Homo sapiens: one gene and its partners. The protein of the gene in region 2 interacts with the protein of the main gene of each other region in a biochemical or structural test. Each region holds a gene or a part of one and is shown on either strand. Other genes may lie near its edges.

Evidence for each region. The genes of interacting proteins can lie anywhere in the genome.
Region 1: the proteins of PARP1 (region 2) and HMGA1 form a complex in vitro, tested with the Homo sapiens proteins (2 studies listed by BioGRID, with this or other methods).
Region 3: the proteins of PARP1 (region 2) and H1-2 form a complex in vitro, tested with the Homo sapiens proteins (2 studies listed by BioGRID, with this or other methods).

Annotation. Positions count from the first base shown.
Region 1 is NC_000006.12:34,239,873-34,246,731, forward strand, and holds the end of HMGA1 (high mobility group protein HMG-I/HMG-Y), read left to right. Parts: intron 1-800; exon of another isoform or gene 801-864; 5' UTR 865-908; coding exon 909-1,043; intron 1,044-2,839; coding exon 2,840-2,923; intron 2,924-3,595; coding exon 3,596-3,646; intron 3,647-4,958; coding exon 4,959-5,012; 3' UTR 5,013-6,359; downstream 6,360-6,859. UniProt on the Homo sapiens protein: HMG-I/Y bind preferentially to the minor groove of A+T rich regions in double-stranded DNA. It is suggested that these proteins could function in nucleosome phasing and in the 3'-end processing of mRNA transcripts.
Region 2 is NC_000001.11:226,397,442-226,405,612, forward strand, and holds part of PARP1 (poly [ADP-ribose] polymerase 1), read right to left. Parts: intron 4,939-8,171; coding exon 4,773-4,938; intron 1-4,772. UniProt on the Homo sapiens protein: Poly-ADP-ribosyltransferase that mediates poly-ADP-ribosylation of proteins and plays a key role in DNA repair.
Region 3 is NC_000006.12:26,055,240-26,060,307, forward strand, and holds H1-2 (histone H1.2), read right to left. Parts: upstream 1,232-5,068; 5' UTR 1,190-1,231; coding exon 548-1,189; 3' UTR 501-547; downstream 1-500. UniProt on the Homo sapiens protein: Histone H1 protein binds to linker DNA between nucleosomes forming the macromolecular structure known as the chromatin fiber. Histones H1 are necessary for the condensation of nucleosome chains into higher-order structured fibers.

The DNA of each region.
Region 1 (6,859 bases), on a different chromosome or scaffold from region 2:
AGGATGAGCCCTAAACCTCATCCTAAAGGATGAGGGCCAGCCAGGGTCTGTTAGGCGGTGCATTTCAGTTGGAGAATTCCCTACCCATCTGACAAAGTCCCATCTGACTCCAGTTGGGCAGAGGAGGGGTAAGGGGAAAGAGGAGGGTGGCCTTTGGCTTTGGGCTCACTTTCCTCCCCCACCTCACCCACTAGCTTCAACCATCTCCTCCCTCCCTCAATTATACCAATCTGAATTCTCCAGGGATTTACCCTGGGTGAGAACAGAGAAGAGAGCTGGTGGTGGGCACCACCCCTGGCTGTGTGATTGGCTCTTTTTGGTCCTGAGTCTTGCACCTTGCCAGATAGGCAATATTGTCAGTGAGGTGGGCAGGGGATCAATGTCCATAGCTGCCAGATCGCAAGGTCTCATTCTTTCCATTTTCCCACTGAACTGCGTAGGCTGGATTTTCTCTTAAAGAGAAAGGGCAGCAGTTGACTACAGAAGGAGGGGATGCTGGCAATACGTCAGATCTCACCTCCCCACACCTTTGTCCCAGGGTGGCCTCACCCATGTAGCTAGGTCTGGGCTGGCTGTACCTCCTGGGACCCCCCCCACCACGCTGCACTGGGGCGGTGTTAAGGCAGGACAACAAAGAGCCCTTCTGAACAGGAGATAGATAAGAAGCTGATTAGGGCCAACGGCCCTTCCCCGCCCTTGGCAGCATCTGGGGGTGGGCAGACCCCTCCATCCTGGGCAGAGTAGGAGGCCTGGGGGCCCATGGGAGCACAGTTTTCTGCAGTGTGCCTTGAAGGTGTGGGTGATGAGGGGGTAGAAAGTGGCTGAAGCGAGATGTTTGTCTAAAAGCACTTTTCTGTCTCCCAGCATCCCAGCCATCACTCTTCCACCTGCTCCTTAGAGAAGGGAAGATGAGTGAGTCGAGCTCGAAGTCCAGCCAGCCCTTGGCCTCCAAGCAGGAAAAGGACGGCACTGAGAAGCGGGGCCGGGGCAGGCCGCGCAAGCAGCCTCCGGTGAGTCCCGGGACAGCGCTGGTAGGGAGTCAGGTGGGTGTCCAAACCTTTGCTTCACTTGGTTTACCCTTTGGGGCTAGGGAGGTGCCTGGAGTTTCATTCAGCAGGCGAGACCATGCATGGAGGGTGCAGAATGATTCTGCGCAGTAAGCGTGTGGGTGTGTCCTCCCACCTGTGTGTACTCCTGCCCCACTTGCAACCCTGGTCAGATCTCTATAGAGACCCCAGGAGAGAACCGGGGGCCGAGGAATTCAAGATAAATTCTGAAGCCAATGGCAAACAGTCCAAACCTAAAGCACCCCAGAGGTCACATGGCCAGTGCTTAAAACACTCGCCTTTTTCTTAATTTCCAATCCACTGTGGACCAGTAATTTTAAAATGCAGTAAAGACGAATGAACAAAAATGAACATAGAAGCCCAGGGTTTTTAATCATTAGATTCAGTGCACGTAAAATGATTTTTGTCAATTTGCTGTAAAGTTGCTGAATACTTATGGTCGATTCTTGTACTTCCTCATCCCAGGTGAGAAACGGGTGCCTGCGTGGGCCAGCACCTGTTTGTGCACAGGCCAGTTATGAGTAGTTCTGGAATGGGCATTGCCCCTGGCTCTTTAGATGGAAATTGAAGCCCAAGAAGTCAAAAATGTTGGGGAGTTGGTGGCAGTGACCCTCAGAACCCTGGTGCTGCTCTCCCCACAAAGTCCTCATAGAAGGATGAGGCTGCCAGCCTGGCGCTGTGGGGCACCCTAGGGAGCATGGCCATTTGGGCATGGGGGGGACCCCATATTGGCCTCTTACAGAGGCAGCTGTCACCCAAGTGAAGGGTGGCTGTTGGTGAAGCCCAGTTACTTCCCTTCCCTGGGAGAGAGGTAAGAGGAGTTGAGTTCGACCTCTGCCCCTTAAACATGATACAGGTTGTTCACCTGCAGGTTTTCCCTGTCCGTACGGTGGAGAGTGGTCTGTGCTGACCTGGGCCCAGGGAGACACGAGCTGTGAGGAGTCTGCTGTGTTGGAATTCAGAGCCTGGGGTGGGGTCATTTGTCCTCTTAGCCTAGCTCCCTCAGCCTCCCCTCCTACCCCACCTGTTAGCCATGGTCAGTGGGAGGTGTCAGGAGGGGTGCAGGGTTACTGGACCCTGGTTATAGACAGACCATGGGCGGCCCCCTAGGAAACAGTAGCTGGCGCGCCTTCACCACACACCTTATATGCATTATGCAGCAGCTTTTTATTCTATCTACGGCTTATTAAAATTTCAGTGGGAATGATGGCAGGGATCTCTGGAGTCCGGCTATAATTCCCCTTCTCTGGGGGCAGCCTGGATGGGCTCCAGGTTTGCAAGTGCAGGCAGGGAGTGTGTGTCCAGCATAGGTCATCTGAGAGGGTGGGCAGTGATCATGGCCCAGTGCTAGATAACCATACATTACCCATTTAATCTCCATGACACCCTGCAAGGGAAGTCTTCACCATTTATAGATGAGGAAACTGAGGCTCCAGCATTAAGTGTCCCACCCAAGATAAGTGTCAGAACTGAGACTTGGGCAGAGCCACCTAACTGTCTTTCTGTCCCCAGAATGCCTTTCCTAGGGGTCTTCTGGGCTCTTGTCATTTTGCATCTTAGAAACCTGCAGGGAAGCAAGGGGAGAGGTGGGAGGCACTTTGCAAAGATGCTCAAACTGGAGCTTTGGATCCTGAAGGGATTCCTAGGTCAGGGATGGTTTGTGGTTCTTGGTTCTTGCTGACTTAACCTTGTTGAGGAGGCAGAGGGCTGTGTCTTCTGAGGGGGTGGAAACAGGTGATGACTGTCCCTGACTACCCCCTCTGTCTTTACAGAAGGAGCCCAGCGAAGTGCCAACACCTAAGAGACCTCGGGGCCGACCAAAGGGAAGCAAAAACAAGGGTGCTGCCAAGACCCGGGTGAGACTTGAGATGGGACTACCCCTGGGTGGATGACTAGCAGAGGATCCTCTTGTTGGCACCATGGCCACGGCTGTGGGGAGGTCTGGGAAGGGGCTCAGTCATCTCAGTTGTGTACCCCCTTCCCTGGTACAGGGATGGCAGTGAGTCTTTGCTAACTGGGGAGAGTGGGGCGATGACTAAGGTCTTACTTCTGGGGGGTTGGTCCTGCCCAGGACACTGCGGAGATCAGGTCAGAAGTCCCACAGCTTTCCTGATCTAGAGAAGGGCAGAGTGGGGAGAATGGAGGGTCCCTGCCAGTCCCTGGGCTGAGAATGTTACCTTCTCTTGGGGTTCCCTGGAGCCTGAAGGGGTGGGGACAGGCAGCAAAGGCCAGATTCACAGTGACATTAGCCTTTCAGAAAAGTTGTTTTGTTTTTTATTTTATTTTTTCTAAGACACGACTCATATCCTCTGAGTCATGGGCGGAGGTGGGAGTAGGGGGCGTGTGTGTATGTCGAGGGGGCAAATGTGGCTGGCCAGTCATTGCCAGCTGGACTTGGGTGGGCCTGTTGGGTGAGAGTGTTGGGTCACCCTGAACAGGCAGGTAGGTCTGCCCCCCATCACTATTGGGCATCGGGTGAGCACTGATGAGCATTTTGGACTTAGGAGATATTTTCTCTAACCCTCTAGAAAACCACCACAACTCCAGGAAGGAAACCAAGGGGCAGACCCAAAAAACTGGTAGGTGAAGAAGCAGACTGCTGCTTGCCTCCTGGGCTCTTTTGAGTTGAGGGTGTTGAGTACACAGTACCTGATGCTATGCACCCCCTATGGAAAGGCTCTCCTTGACCTGCTGGGACATCAGATTTTACAGAAGTCCAGAGAGGGGAAGGTACCTGGCCTGGGCTGTGCCCATGAGAAGTGAGGGGTCCCAGGTATAAATCAGACCACATCCCCCTGCCCTGCCCTGCCCTAGTTGTGTGTGGGGGTCCCTCCCTCTCCTGCTCCTAGAATACTCAGAACTTCTAGGGGAGATCTTGGAAGTCATCTAGCCTGTGTCCCCCTCAATTAGAGATGAGGAAAGGAAGCCATAGGGGGAAGGTTTGTCCTTCCTATGAGCCTCTGCAGAAGAGAAACAGCGAAGGAGCTGGGCCCTGGGAGGGGTCGGTGCTGGAGTTCTGATGTGACCCACCACACTGCACTGGAGGGCACCATCCAATTCTGGGTCCCCAAACAGCTGGTGGAAAGGCTCGGTGGGCTGAGTCAAGAAGCTGCCTCTAGGGGGCCACTGCAGTTAGGGTCACCCCAGCCTTCCAGCTCCTGGCCCTCTCCTACCCCCAGCCTGCCCCCTCAAATCCCTGAAGCTGTCATTCCTTGAGCTGAGCCACTGCTGGGGTGGGGGGGTTAGGGGGTGCTGCTGGCCAGGCCCCAAGAGTGAGTAACAGGAAACAAGTTGTTTTGGAGTTTGTGCCTGGCACGGGGGCTGTAGCCCCGTGTGGTGTCCCGACATTCCCGCCCAGTGAGTGAGCCCCGGCGGCACACACTTCCCCTTCCTCCCCACCCCGGCCTAGGGTCAGCCCTCGGCCACCCCGGAGGGCCAGGGCACCACAGCACAGCATCTGCCCCTGTGGGCCAAGGACCTGGTTCCCCTGCACCCACCAGCGGGCTCTTGCACCTTCCAGCCACCCCTTCCCATTTCCTCCCCCAGCCACCTCTTCCCCCACCTCCTCTTCTCCCCTAGGGAGTCAGTCACATCCTGAAGCTCATTGCTGCCCTGAGCTCTGCCCTCCTGCCCTCCCTGGGCCTGGGGGCCAAGGGGGCTTGGCTCCTGGCTCTGGGTGAGAGCAGCATGTGTGTGGGGTTTTTTCCTCCTTTTAAATTCTTTTTATGAATGAAGCCGGGCCGTGGAGGTTGCTGAGTCACCCACACACTCAGCCCTGACTCATCCCTCTTCAGGAGAGCCAGGGAGTGCAGGGAGCGGGTGGGGCCAGCCTCTGGGGGTGGAAGAGGGGGACCGGGCCAGAGCTCACACCAACAACTGCCCACCTCACAGGAGAAGGAGGAAGAGGAGGGCATCTCGCAGGAGTCCTCGGAGGAGGAGCAGTGACCCATGCGTGCCGCCTGCTCCTCACTGGAGGAGCAGCTTCCTTCTGGGACTGGACAGCTTTGCTCCGCTCCCACCGCCCCCACCCCTTCCCCAGGCCCACCATCACCACCGCCTCTGGCCGCCACCCCCATCTTCCACCTGTGCCCTCACCACCACACTACACAGCACACCAGCCGCTGCAGGGCTCCCATGGGCTGAGTGGGGAGCAGTTTTCCCCTGGCCTCAGTTCCCAGCTCCCCCCGCCCACCCACGCATACACACATGCCCTCCTGGACAAGGCTAACATCCCACTTAGCCGCACCCTGCACCTGCTGCGTCCCCACTCCCTTGGTGGTGGGGACATTGCTCTCTGGGCTTTTGGTTTGGGGGCGCCCTCTCTGCTCCTTCACTGTTCCCTCTGGCTTCCCATAGTGGGGCCTGGGAGGGTTCCCCTGGCCTTAAAAGGGGCCCAAGCCCCATCTCATCCTGGCACGCCCTACTCCACTGCCCTGGCAGCAGCAGGTGTGGCCAATGGAGGGGGGTGCTGGCCCCCAGGATTCCCCCAGCCAAACTGTCTTTGTCACCACGTGGGGCTCACTTTTCATCCTTCCCCAACTTCCCTAGTCCCCGTACTAGGTTGGACAGCCCCCTTCGGTTACAGGAAGGCAGGAGGGGTGAGTCCCCTACTCCCTCTTCACTGTGGCCACAGCCCCCTTGCCCTCCGCCTGGGATCTGAGTACATATTGTGGTGATGGAGATGCAGTCACTTATTGTCCAGGTGAGGCCCAAGAGCCCTGTGGCCGCCACCTGAGGTGGGCTGGGGCTGCTCCCCTAACCCTACTTTGCTTCCGCCACTCAGCCATTTCCCCCTCCTCAGATGGGGCACCAATAACAAGGAGCTCACCCTGCCCGCTCCCAACCCCCCTCCTGCTCCTCCCTGCCCCCCAAGGTTCTGGTTCCATTTTTCCTCTGTTCACAAACTACCTCTGGACAGTTGTGTTGTTTTTTGTTCAATGTTCCATTCTTCGACATCCGTCATTGCTGCTGCTACCAGCGCCAAATGTTCATCCTCATTGCCTCCTGTTCTGCCCACGATCCCCTCCCCCAAGATACTCTTTGTGGGGAAGAGGGGCTGGGGCATGGCAGGCTGGGTGACCGACTACCCCAGTCCCAGGGAAGGTGGGGCCCTGCCCCTAGGATGCTGCAGCAGAGTGAGCAAGGGGGCCCAAATCGACCATAAAGGGTGTAGGGGCCACCTCCTCCCCCTGTTCTGTTGGGGAGGGGTAGCCATGATTTGTCCCAGCCTGGGGCTCCCTCTCTGGTTTCCTATTTGCAGTTACTTGAATAAAAAAAATATCCTTTTCTGGACTGGAGTCTCCTGTGGTGTGTGCCCCTAAAGCCTGGGGCAGGTAGGATGGGTGACACTTGTGTTCTGGCCCCCATCCTTCAGGCTGCAGGAAGGGAGGGGAAATAGCACTGGAATCACCTCCGGGGAAGGTCATTTTAAGCCTCTTGATGAAATCAAAACCCCTAGCCACAAAACATTTTATTTACAAAATATATACTGAATACTATACATCTGGCCCCATCACCATGGAAACAACTCCAAAGCCTGCCTGGGGATTTGTGCCCAAGCCCAGCCCAGGAGGGCTAGAGAAAGCAAAGGTGTCTACCAGCCGCCCCCATCCCAGAAGGAAAGCCTCTTCCCATGAGTGCCTGTGGGTGGGCGGTGAGCTCAACACCCACAAAGGGCAGAAGGCCTGGGGGCAGTGAGGTGATGGTGAGGGCATGGGAAGCAGATGCTGCTGAGGGTGGGTGGAGGGAGAAATGGAGACCCAGCACCCAGCAGGGGGAGCCAGGTGACAGCA
Region 2 (8,171 bases):
CAGCTGCAAGGACCAGCTGCTGCAAGGGCAGACAGTGATATGGTTTGGATCTGTGTCCCCACTAAATCTCCTATCAAATTATAATCCCGAATGTTGGAGGTGGGGCCTGGTGGGAGGTCACTGGATCACCGGGACAGATTTCTCCCTTGGTGCTGTGTCATGATACTTGTGAGTTCTCCTGAGATCTGGTTGTTGAAAAATGTGTAGCACCTCCCCTTTCACTCTCTTCCTCCTGCTCCGGCCATGTCAACTGCCGGCTTCTCCTCTGCCTTCTGCCATGACAGTAACAAGGTTGGAGGACTGACACTACCCAACCTAAAGACTTACTATGAAGCCACAGCAGTCAACACAGTGTGGTACTGGCAAAAGGATACGTAGATCAGTGGGACAGAACAGGGAGCCCAGAAACAGAGCCACACAAGCACAGTCCACTGATCTTTGACAAAAAAGTAAAGGCAAAAATGGAGAAAAGATAGTCTTTTCAACAAACGGAGCTGTAACAACTGGACATCCACATGCGAAAAAAAAAAAAGAAAAAAAATAAAGGAATCTAGACACAGACCTTACACCCTTCACAAAAAGTAACCAAAATGGATAACAGACCTAAATGTAAGACACAAAACTGTTAAACTTCTAGAAGAAAATCTATATGACCTTGGGTCTGGTGATGACTTTTTACAAACACCAAAAGCCCAATCCACTAAAGAAGTAACTGATTAACTAGACTTCACAAAATTAAGAACTTCTGCTCTGCGGAAGACCAGCCACACACTGAGAAAAAATATTTTCAAAAGACATATGACAAAGGGCTGTTATCCAAAATATACCAAGAACTCTTAGGACTCAACAGTAAGAAAACAAACAATGTGATTTTAAAAAGAGCAAAACCAGGAGTTTGAGACCAGTCTGGGCAACAAGGTGGGGCCCTGTCTCTACAAAAAATTTAAAAAAATTAGCCAGGCATGGTGGTGCGCACCTGTAGTCCCAGCTACTCAAGAGGCTGAGGTGGGAGACAGAGGTCAAGGCTGCAGCGAACTGTGATCACACCACTGCACTCTAGCCTGGGCGACGGAGCAAGACAGTCTTAAAAAAAAAAAAAAAAAGTGGGGGTAGGGGCAGGCAAAAGACATTTCACCAAAGATATACAGATGGTAAATAAACGTATGAGAAGATGTTCAAGATAATTACAGTATTAGGGAAATGCAAATTAAAACAATAATAAAATACTATATATCTATTGGAATGGCCAAAATCCAAAACAATGATAACACCAAATGCTGGCAAAGATGTATAATGATACGAACTCTCATCTATTGCTGGTGGGAATGGAAAATGATTCAGCTTTTTGAAAGACAGCTTGGCAGTTTCTTACAAAACTAAATATACTCTTACCACATGATCCAGCAATTGTACTCCTTGATTACCCAAAGGAGTTGAAAACTTATGTCCCCATAAAAACCTGCACATGGTGGGTGTTTCTAGCAGCTTTGTTCATAATCACCAAAACTTGGAAGCAATCAAGATGTCCTTCAGCAGGTCAATGAATAAACAAACTGTGGTAATCCAGACAATGGAATATTATTCAGTAATAAAAAGAAATGAGCTATCAATACGACAAGACATGGAGGAATCTTTTTTTTTTTTTTTTTTTGAGATGGAGTTTCGCTCTGTTGCCAGGCTGGAGTGCAGTGGCATGATCTCGGCTCACTGCAACCTCCGCCTCCCAGTACAACCAATTCTCCTGTCTCGGCCTCCCGAGTAGCTGGGACTACAGGTGCACACCACCACACCGGCTAATTTTTGTATTTTTAATAGAGACAGGGTTTCACCATATTGGCCAGGCTGGTCTCGAACTCCTGACCTCGTAATCTGCTGGGCTCGGCCTCCCAAAGTGCTGGGATTACAGATGTGAGCCACCGTGCCCGGCTCGACATGGAGGAATCTTAAGAGCACATTGCTAGTGAGAGAAGCCAATCTGAAAAGGCTACCTTCTGTATGATTCCAACTATATTATATTCTGGAAAAGGAAAAACTATGGAGAAAGCAAAAAGATCAGTGGTTACTGGAGGTTAGAGGGGAGGGAGGAATGACTAGGCAAAGCACAGAGATTTCCCAGGCAGTGAAAGGACTCTGGAGGCTACCATAAAGGTACATGCATGTCAATGTATGTTTGTTAAAACTGACAGAATGTACAATGCAAAGAGTGAGCCCTCATGTAAACTACAGACCTCGAGGGATAACGATGTGTCAATGTGGCTCATCAGTTATAACCATGGACCACTCCGATAACGATGTGTCAATGTAGCTCATCAGCTATAACCATGGACCACTCTGGTGGCGATGTTGATTGTGGACAAAAGTCTGTGTATGTGTGGGGTGGGTAGGGCTAGCGGGTATATGGAAACTCTGTACTTTACTCAATTTTGCTGTGAACCTAAAACTGCTATAAGAAAAAAAGTCTACATACAGAAGAATGTCATGAACCTGGGAGGCGGAGCTTACGGTGAGCCGAGATCACACCACTGCACCCCAGCTTGGGTGACAGAGCGAGAATCCGTCTCCAACAACAACGAAAAAAGTTTACATATAAAAAAAGGTTAAACAGACAATGGAACAGAAATTTTTAAAAGGACCCCAAAATACAGAGATTTTGTGCATGATACAAGACACCTCTCAATGGGGGAGATGAATAAGCCAATAAACAAAGTACAAAAAATTAGCTGGGCATGGTGGCAGGCACCACGCTACTCGGGAGGCTGAGGCAGGAGAATCGCCTGAACCCGGGAGGCGGAGGTGGCAGTGAGCCAAGACCATGCCACAGCACTCCAGCCTGGGCAACAGAGTGAGACTCCATCTCGAAAACAAAACAAAAACAAAAACAACAACAAAAAAACAAAGTAGGGAAACTAGATCATCATCTGGAAAAAAATAAAACTGGAGTCACGCCTCACACCACACATCAGCACACACCGGGATAACTCTCAAATAGAGTAAACATTTAGATGTTAAAAGAAATAAGGAACCATAAAATTACACGTACTGGATGTAGTTCATCTGTATCCCCAGGGTGGGCTACCTGACAGTGGCTGCTGGTGCCACAGCCTTGTTCCCTAGCACTGTCACTGCCTCAGGGTAAGGGCCACACCCTGGCATACCCACCCTGTAGTGACCACCACAGTAACAAACACAGCACTGTCACCAACAGGCCAACTCTTTCAAAACCAGGGACTGAGAGTCCTCCCGCCACTTCCAGATCTAGAGGCAGCTCTGGCTGCAGGGCGTGACTGTGCAGAGGCCAGGAACACAGTCTGGAAGTGCAGAGAACCACAGCACCTCCAGCGAGCTAAAACCAATGAGAAACAAGAGGCAGAAAGAACCAATGGATAATGCTGCTCCCTTCCTCCTGCTCCGAGGGGCTTTTCTGAAGCTTAGTGGCAAAGGACTTGCGTGAGGGCATCCTGCATGACCAAGCCATTGGCTGTTTCTCATGAAGCCATGGCCAGCTTGACAGCGTATGGCACTGTGCTTGCCCTCCTGCCTCCCCTTCCTCCCTCTCTCTTGCTGCCCTAGGATTACCTCTCCTAATAAAGCTTTTAATAGCTTTGCTTTCTGCTCTGCTATGTCACCTGACGTGACCTGTACTAAGACATGGGAGAAGACATAAAAGGAGAAAACTGTGGAGACAGTAAAAAGAGCAGTGGTTGTCAGGAATTAGGAGGGATAAACAGGGGATTTTTAGAGCAGTGAAACTGATGCAGGGCAGGCCAGCCCTAAATTGGGGATTGGCCTGGGCGGGTCCTTGGCTTCGCTCTGGAAAGCATTTAAGAGCGAGCTCGTGGTAGAAGAAAGCAGCTTTATTGAGGCAGCAGTGTTATGGCTCTGTGACTGCTCCTGCAGAGCAGGGCTACCCCACAGGCACTGTGCTGAGAGCAGCAGCTCAAAGGCAGTTCTGAAGTCATATTTACACCCACTTTTAATTATATGCAAATTAAGGGGCAGACTATGCAGACATGTTAAGAAACGGGGTGGTAACTTTTAGGTCATCAGATTGTTGTCACAGAAAGGGGTGGTAACTTCCGGGTATTGCCATGGCAATGGTAAACTGATATGGCACACTGGTGGGTGTTTTATGGAAAGCTGCTTCGTCCCTGTCCCTGCTTTAGTTAGTCCTCGGTTTGGTTTGGTGTCTGAGCCCCACCTCCTACCTCATTCCCCTCTCAGAGATGAGCTATTCTTCCTTAATCTTAAGGGGGCTGCAGAAGGGTGCAGGTCTGAAACTACTCTGTATGATACTATAATGGCAGATGCATGTCATCATACATTTGTCCAAACCCATAGAATGTAGAGCATCAGGAGTTTCTGGACTCTGGGCAATAATGATGTGTCAGTGTAGGTTCCTCAATTATAACAAATGTACTACTCTGGTGGGAGGTGTTGACAAGGAAGAGCCTGTGTGGTGGGAGGGGGAGGGGGTACTGGAAACTCTTTGTTCTTTGCTTACTTTTGCCATGAACAAAAATAAAGTATATTAAAAACAAAACAACTTTAAAGGCTACATTCCAAGCACCTGGAAAAACAAAATACCAAATATCATGCAACAGATGATGCTGAGTCCAGGAGGTGTTGCTGAAATAACATGGGCACCATACGCTTGATCTGCACATGTGGGAGAGGGCAAGCTGGGGGAGGTTTGCTTTGCTCTCTGAGACGAGGCCCTCCTGGGAGCTTCAGGGTGGGGGCTGAATGCCCATGCTGCCCCAGTATGTACACACCTGTCACTCCTCCAGCTTCCGCTGTCTTCTTGACTTTCTGCTGGTCATCCCACCGAAGCTCAGAGAACCCATCCACCTCAACGTCAGGGTGCCGGATGGAGTGGCCCACCTTCCAGAAGCAGGAGAAGTGGTACCAGTGTGGGACTTTTCCATCAAACATGGGCGACTAGAAGGAAGAGAAACAGAGGGAAGTAAGTAAGCAGTTAACTTTTGACTTAGACCCACTAGACCTTGACCTTGACCTCGACCCCAGTCCCAGCCCCAGCAGTGGGATAGCACATGAAACTTTTGTTCTCCTATCTGTGAAAGGAGGACAGCCTCCGCTCTCACATGAAGAGCTGCAGCATCCTTCTCACGATCTTCCCCAAGGGTCAGAAGACTGTAGCCCACTGTTCTTGAGCTCATTCTCTTAGGACACCAAACACAGCCACGAGAAAGGTGGCCTTTTACCACTGAGCTCTGCCCCACGTCCCTTTTGACCACACACTGCTACATTTAGTGGTGAGCTGCCTCATGGCCTAGTGAAATGCACAGAAGACACTTGTGCAGAGTCACAATCCTGCAGCATCTGCTGGGAATGGCCAGACAACTGCTCCAGGCTTGCCTGGACTCAAAGGGCCTGTGTGCCCCAGAAAAGGGCTCTTTAAGTGCCTCTGCAGTTAAGAATAACAAGGAACAAGTCCCAGATAATGAGCAAAGCAGAGAAAGTGTGTCAGAAAAAAGTGTCAAGCTTGCAGCAGCCACACAGATGGGAGTGGAATGAATGGAGGTCTTTGAGGCAACTGTGACAGCGGATGGTTCGGGGCAGCATGCCTAGAGCTGGAGTCAGCTGCTCACTGGCCTTCTGGGGCGCAGTTTCCCAGGCGTAGGACCTGAGAAGTCTGGCCACAGGGAACACAGTTCCCCTCTCCAGGTGGTTTGCTTCCCACTAGGCCTTTCATTGTGACAGGGTCAGGTTCTGCTCCCAGGCCTCGAGCACTGTCTGGCTTTGTTTTTGAGACCGAGTCTTGCACTGAGTGCAGTGGTGCGATCTCAGCTCACTGCAACCTCTGTCTCCTGGGTTCAAGCGATTCTCCTGCCTCGGCCTCCTGAGTAGCTGGGACTACAGGCACGTGCCACCCATGCCTGGCTAATTTTTGTATTGTTAGTAGCAATGGGGCTTCACCATGTTGGCCAGGCTGGTCTCGAACTTCTGACCTCGTGACCCGCCCGCCTCGGCTTCCCGAAGTGCTGGGATTACAGGCATGAACCACTGCACCCAGTCCTGGCTTTACAGAGTGGACGGTGACAGCGATTGGGAAGAAGGGGAAGACACAGTATGTAGTGTGTGTCCCTGCTCCTTTCATAAGCCATCCTGTGTAATCCCACAATCTGCCTCTGGGTGGGAACCAGCCCTTTCATTCACAGATGGAGACAGTGGGGCTGGAAATCCTTGCCTGGGGGGTTGGGAGTCACAGAGGCAGCAAATGAATGATTTGACACTATGATTCCTCCCACCACACTCCACTGCCCGGCAGGAAGAGCTACTTAAAAATACACCAACTGTGATCTGACTAAAGTAAGGGAAGTCCCAAACATCTGCTTTTATAGAACATAAAGCTAAATGTCACACAGATGCAATAAGACTATTAAAACAGCATTAAAAGTAAATGTGCTGAATTTTTAGGATGGAGTTGCGGGGACAGGGAAAATACTCTGGAAAAGCAATGATAAGGTACCCCACTATCTCTCTCCACTGTGAGTGGCCTCTTTCTGGATGTGATGTATTAAAATGCACAGCTAAGACTATGGCAGCACAAGGACTCCTCAACATCAGCTTTCCCCTGGGTCTGGAATGCTCTCCAGCCCTGTTCAGAGCACTCCCTCAGATCTCCCAATGCTCCTTCCACAGCTCCCCTCACTAAGAACTATGCATTTGGTGATTATTTCATAAGGGCCTATCTTGCTATTCTCTAGCAACATGTCACAGAGGGCACGCAGTGTTTGCTTAGGGCTCCAAGTCAGATGGAACAAAAAAGGAAGGATGGGGAAATTCCTGCTGTAGAAGAGACAACAAATGGCATTTCTGAGAGCATACTCATGTTCCAACTCTCAAACGTTCCACCAGATCTCAATTAGGCTGCTGATACAGATCCCTAAGCATCTGGCTATCATGGAATATTTGCAATGGCCTCGACCTGGCTCTGCCTGCTTGTCTACCCCTTGTCTACCCTTCCTGTGCAATGTTCCAGTTACCCTTGTATAAAGAGCACAGGTAATGGCTATGGCACTTCTTCCTGGCTCTGCCAGGGGCCCCAGACCTGCTGCCCTTTGGTCTGGGTGCTGTCTCCCCCAACCACCGGCACAGTGCTGGACACCCTGGAGGTGCTGCCCAATGGTGCAATCACAGCACAAGCTTAGAGGACAAGAGCCTCAGCAGAAGCACCCCTGACCAAAGCAATGCTTTGCCCTAAACTCAGGACTGAGAATGATGTGGCAGAAAGGCACCAAACCAAGGTCACAAGACTATCGACTCCATTTGTTAGCTGCACAGCTGAGGCAAGGCACAGAATCTTTGGCTGTGCACCCAAGCAAAAACTGAGCACCTAACATACCAGGGTCCTCACCCAACCAGCAGCTGGTGAACTGGGTTCCCTTCTGTGCAGAACAGGCCATGCTACCTGTCCACCTAGGCCACAGAGAGAATGAACTGACCTCACTGCATGCCTCCGGGTGCTCAAACCCTCCCAGGACAGAGCAACTCAAAGGTCTACCGCCATCCTCCTCCCACCAAAATGCTGGAGGGCCCAGCTCATCCCTCCCAAGATGCCCCAGGCATGAGGGCTAAAGTGTCAGGTATCAGATACTCAGAGAACAATACTCCCATGTAAATGTAAAAGAAGGTATTTAAATTCAAGCAAGTGAAAAGGCTTCTTTCTTTTTGGCCTTCACCAGCTCAGTCTACCAGACCAACTTTAAATTCTGAATTAAAACTCTGAATCCACCCTTAATCACCATTACATAAAAATCACAGTTACTTTTAATAATAAAGAGTTTCTTTCACTATCAAGTATACCAAAGGAAAGCCCAGAATGTTGTTATTACTATTTTTTTTTTCAGACAGGGTCTGGGTCTGGGTCTGGGTCTGTCGCCCAGGCTGGAGTGCAGTGGCACTATCTCAGCTCACTGCAACCTCCACCTCCCAGGCTCAAGCAATCTTCCAGCTTCAGCCTCCGGAGTAGCTGGGACTTAACAGGCACGCACCACCACGACCCGCTAATCATTGCATTTTTTTGTAGAGACAGGTTTCACCATGTTGGCCAGGCTGGTCTCAAACTGCTGAGCTTAAGTAATCTGCCCACCCCAGCCTCCCAAAGTGCTGAGATTACAAGCATGCGCCACCAAGCCCGGCCCCAGAAT
Region 3 (5,068 bases), on a different chromosome or scaffold from region 2:
ACCAACAACATGGAAAGCGTCCGAAATCCCAGACATTAATATAAAGAGAAAAGAGGCAAAACTTTTAAGTCACAGTAAAGCAAAAAACACAGAATAAGCAACGTCTTCCACCATCCAATTAAATACAGAATGAAAGTCATGTACTAGAAGAACGGACCAACCCGGGAGCAGGGCGGGACTTTTGAAAATTTTTTAGTCCAATCCGGACATCCCTTTAGACTAAGAAACTGGCTCTTGTTTTGCGGTCTTTTCTGCCGTTCACAGGCCTGGGGCGGGACTGCCATCCCAAAACCATCCGCCAGCGAGAAAAGCCTCCGGTCAGGGACCTAGAAGCCGCAATAAAGGTTTAAATGCTGTAACCTCACCACGGCCACTCTCCAACCCCGTCACCCAATTCGTCTGATACCTCAGTAACTCCCATACGACTAACCTTAAGTAACAGGGCAGAACAAGAAAAGGCAGATAGTAAAGAAATTATCCAGCTCTTTTATTGAGATCAGTGGTGGCTCTGAAAAGAGCCTTTTGGGTTTTAGAAGTAGGCGTTCGCCTATTTCTTCTTGGGCGCCGCCTTCTTAGGCTTGACAACCTTGGGCTTAGCGGCCTTGGGCTTCACAGCCTTAGCAGCACTTTTGGCAGCTTTCTTGGGCTTCGCAACCTTGGCCTTCTTTGGGCTCTTAGCCACTTTCTTGGTTACAGTGGCCGCGGCCGGCTTCTTCGCTTTCTTCGGTGTTTTCTTAGCGCTCTTCTTCGGAGTTGCGCCGCCAGCCGCCTTCTTGGGCTTCTTGGCTGCCCCAACTGGCTTCTTAGGTTTGGTTCCGCCCGCCTTTTTAACCTTGGGCTTGGCTTCCCCGGAGGCTGCCTTCTTGTTGAGTTTAAAGGAGCCAGAAGCACCGGTGCCTTTCGTTTGCACCAGAGTGCCCTTGCTCACCAGGCTCTTGAGACCAAGTTTGATACGGCTGTTGTTTTTCTCCACATCATAGCCGGCGGCAGCCAACGCTTTTTTCAGAGCAGCCAGAGAAACTCCGCTACGCTCTTTAGAGGCGGCCACAGCCTTGGTGATGAGCTCTGACACCGGGGGACCAGACGCCTTACGAGGCGTACCCCCAGCCTTTTTGGCCGCCTTCTTCTTTACAGGGGCCTTCTCCGCAGGAGGCGCGGCAGCGGGAGCGGCAGGAGCAGTCTCGGACATGTTGAGAATCAAAAACTCGGGTACAAGTGGCAAAGCGCCGATGAAGCAGCGCCTGGGCAGGGCCGCTGTATATATAGAGCGCAGGCGCGCTCTGATTGGTGCTCTGGTCGCCCGCCTGGCTGGCAGGCTCTGAGCCGCTGCGCTGCTCCCAAGTTGTGTTTGTTCCACCTCACAAAAGGGGAAAAATATTAAAATTCCCCGCACCAAATCACTTGGGTTTGGTCAGGAAAGGATCTCAGAAGCCTCGGGCTTCATGCTCTTCATTTATTTTTTCCACAAACACAAAAACAACGCGTCCAGGCGTCCCCAATTCCCCCAACTCCGAAGGAAGTCTGGGGCAGTCAGAGACCACTTTCTGTTTTTCTTATAAATTACCTGTTCGCTCCTTTGCCCCTGAAGGTTCTTTTTCCCAGGGGTGGTTGGGCACATGCTTCCCTTATTTTTGAAGAAAAAAGCGAAATGGTTTCCACCTAAATTTTCATGATAATTCTGTTTCTTCACAAGGGAAGTAACACAGGTCCTCTGTGAATTCTTCGTGCAGTCGCACAGGAACTGTGGACTGGGACAAGGATTCCACGGCCAGTCCAAAGCAATTAGGGCGGGATGGGAGGGGGTTCATGAGCCTTGCTAGGGTCCGGGGTGGTGGGGGGCTACAGACTTAAATCTTTGATTTGAAGACATTGAAACTATCAAATCCCTCTTTTCATAGATGGGGGTGGGGCATCCTTTTCACTTCTCTACAGGCGAGAAATTGGGCTCTTTTTAAAGAGCTCTGAGGTCCCCCTCTGAGTTGTGTAAGGCAGGAGGTCTGGCCCTCAAGATAGAGATCATAAAGGAACAAGGGAGAGCCCTTAAGCCTGCAAAAAAGCCAATAGATTTGGCAGTTAGAGGCACTGAGATAATATGTTTTCAAAGAAAACAAGCATTTTTTATTTATTTATTTTTGTACGCTGCAATATAGAAATGAATTTCAGCCCATGAAAATTGTAGGTTACTTTCAGTAACCATACCTTACGCAAGTTACCATATAGGACAATCTCCAGTTGGGAACTCAAATATATCTTTTGAGTTGCAAATAAAGCAACTGACTTTAATAAAACACACTCTTGACTTTTAAGATGAACAATGTATTTGAAATTTATTTTTTTAAATAGCAAAATTTAACACAGAAAGACAAGAAAAGTACCAGAACATGTAATTTATTATAAGATCTGTTGTTGATGAGCTGAAAAATCACCTCTTCTCATCCCCTCTGAAACTATTCTGTTCTAAAGTTTGCTACTTTAAGGTTCACTACTTCTTATTTTACTCTCCGACCCCAAGTAATTGCTATTTTTTTCTTGAGATTAAAGGCAAAGTAAATTGTCTGCCCATATATTTGATATAATTATAGATTCATATTTAGGGACAAAGGTAATATTACAACTCCCCAACAATTTCTGCTCAAATATATGTTTTCATGAAAATATGTGTTAAAGAGAACAGCCTTAGATTGTGGGAAAGTCAAAAGGGAACCTACAAATAAGAGTTCAATGACAAATGAAAAGTGAAACATCTTTTAGACTAAGGGTGACCCCATTGTTTTATTAAATAACATTTGTCCAACATTTGTAAACATTGTCTGCTTGTGTGCTTATGTCCTCTGGGAATTAACAGTCTAATGAGATTAGTGATGGATGAATTAGCAGTGGTGGAAAAACACTTAGACCGGCTATTCCTCAGAGTGACAGGGTATAAGAATTATACAAAATTATGGAAAGTGTATAAACAATTGAAGCACCTGCATCATACTAATATATTGTAGTAAAAGAAATAATATAAGGCTGGGCCCCGTGGCCCACGCCTGTAATCCTAGCACTTTGGGAGACTCGGGGGCGGATCACCTGAGGCCAGGAGTTTGAGATCAGCCTAGCCGACATGGTGAAACACCATCTCTACTAAAAGTACAAAAATTAGCTGGGGGTGGTGGCACTCAGGAGGCTGAGGCAAGGGAATCGCTTGAACCCGGGAAGCAGAGGTTGCAATGAGCCGAAATGACGCCACTGCACTCCAGCCTGTGCAACAGGGTGAGACTCAGTCGAAAAAAAAAGAAAGAAAGGAACAATATAAGAACATGTCACTTAGGCCAGGCTTGGTGGCTCACGCCTGTAATCCTAGCACTTTGGGAGGCTGAGGCGGGCAGATCGCCTGAGGTCAGGAGTTCGAGACCAGCCTGGCCAGCATGGTGAAACCCCATCTCTACTAAAAAAAATACAAAAATTAGCCTGGCGTGGTGGCAGGCAACTCTAATCCCAGCTACTCAGGAAACTGAGGCAGGAGAATCATTTGAACCCGGGAGGTGGAGGTTGCAGTGAGCCGAGATTGCCTCGTTGCACTCCAGAAGCCGAGATTGCCTCATTGCACTCCAGAAGCCGAGATTGCCTCATTGCACTCCAGCCTGGGCAACAGAGCAAGACTCCATGTCAAAAAAAAAAAAATAAAATAAACATTTCACTTAGATCTTATTCTATGTGCAATGAACCCCCTTCTCATTTAAAACTCAGCTAAGTATATCCATCATGAAAATAGCTATGAAACGTCTTGATTACCAGGTAACTGGACCTTCTTTCACTATAAATTGGTGTCCTGGTTTATAAATCGACATGTAAATTTAATCGCTGTGATTCAGTTCTCTAATATGATTTTTCTAGTCGACTCAATCTAATCACATCTCTTTATATGCAAATCTCAAGTCCAGACCTCAAGCCATTAGGACATCCAGCCACCCAGAATCTTGTCCCCAACCTCCTGGCAACATGGTGGAGGCCAGAAGACAGAGAAACATGTAACCAACCCTTTTCTAGATCCTTTATAAAGTGTGTTGAAAAAGTTATGCAAAACTTAAAAGCAACGCAAAAATATTTCTCCATATCCTTCCAAGCTATATTAGAGAATTATCTAAAAAGCCTACTTATGGGGTACCTGATGATGTAAGGCAATACTAGACAGTAAAATAGAATGTGAATCACATAAATACTTTCCAGATTTCTAGTGGTCACATTGAAAGAATGAAAAGAAACAAGTAAAATTAATTTTAAGATATTTTATTTAACTTAATATATCTAAACTATTATCACTTCAACATATAATAAATAAGCTAAAAAAAAAGACAGTTGACATTCTTTTTTAAATGATAAATCTTCAGAACCTGGTGTGTATTTTACACTTTTAGAACATTTTAAATCAGTCTAGCTATAGTCCAAATGGTCAATGATCACGTGTAGCTAGTGGTACCTTATTGGACAACACTGTCCTACGTGAAAGTAACTCTGACTTAATGTTTACATTTTATTGGGTCCAGACTATCTAAAAGTAAACATTCACTTGTAGAAGTTTAATAAATTAATAAGGATTTTGTCATAGAGATGGAAATGAATTCTTAATATAGAAAAAATGACCCTAAAAGTTATTATTGTATTGCCTAATAAGTCATTAAACAACTTTATATCTGATTTTCCCTTCCTCTTCCAGTATACATCCTTTCCCTGACCAAATACATATTTTATTCTCCCGTATCTTCCTTTGACCTAATTGTGATTCTGCTTCCTCCTTCATTAATGAATTAAATCATTCATTGACACATACACAAGCTCACTATATATAGTACATATATGTCAGTCATGTTTTTAACTTCCTGAATGTTGTACTTTGACACTTGGTTGTTCAATTTCGCCTAAGAGCTCTGAATCAGAACCTTTAGAAGCCATTCTGAAAAACTGGAAGATACAAAGCTTTTGACTATCAACTCCATAGCAACCTGATATCTGGTTGGTGTTCCATGGAAACTGTATTTCTCAAATTTTGAAATAAGATTGAACAAGCCTGTGAGCAACAACAAAA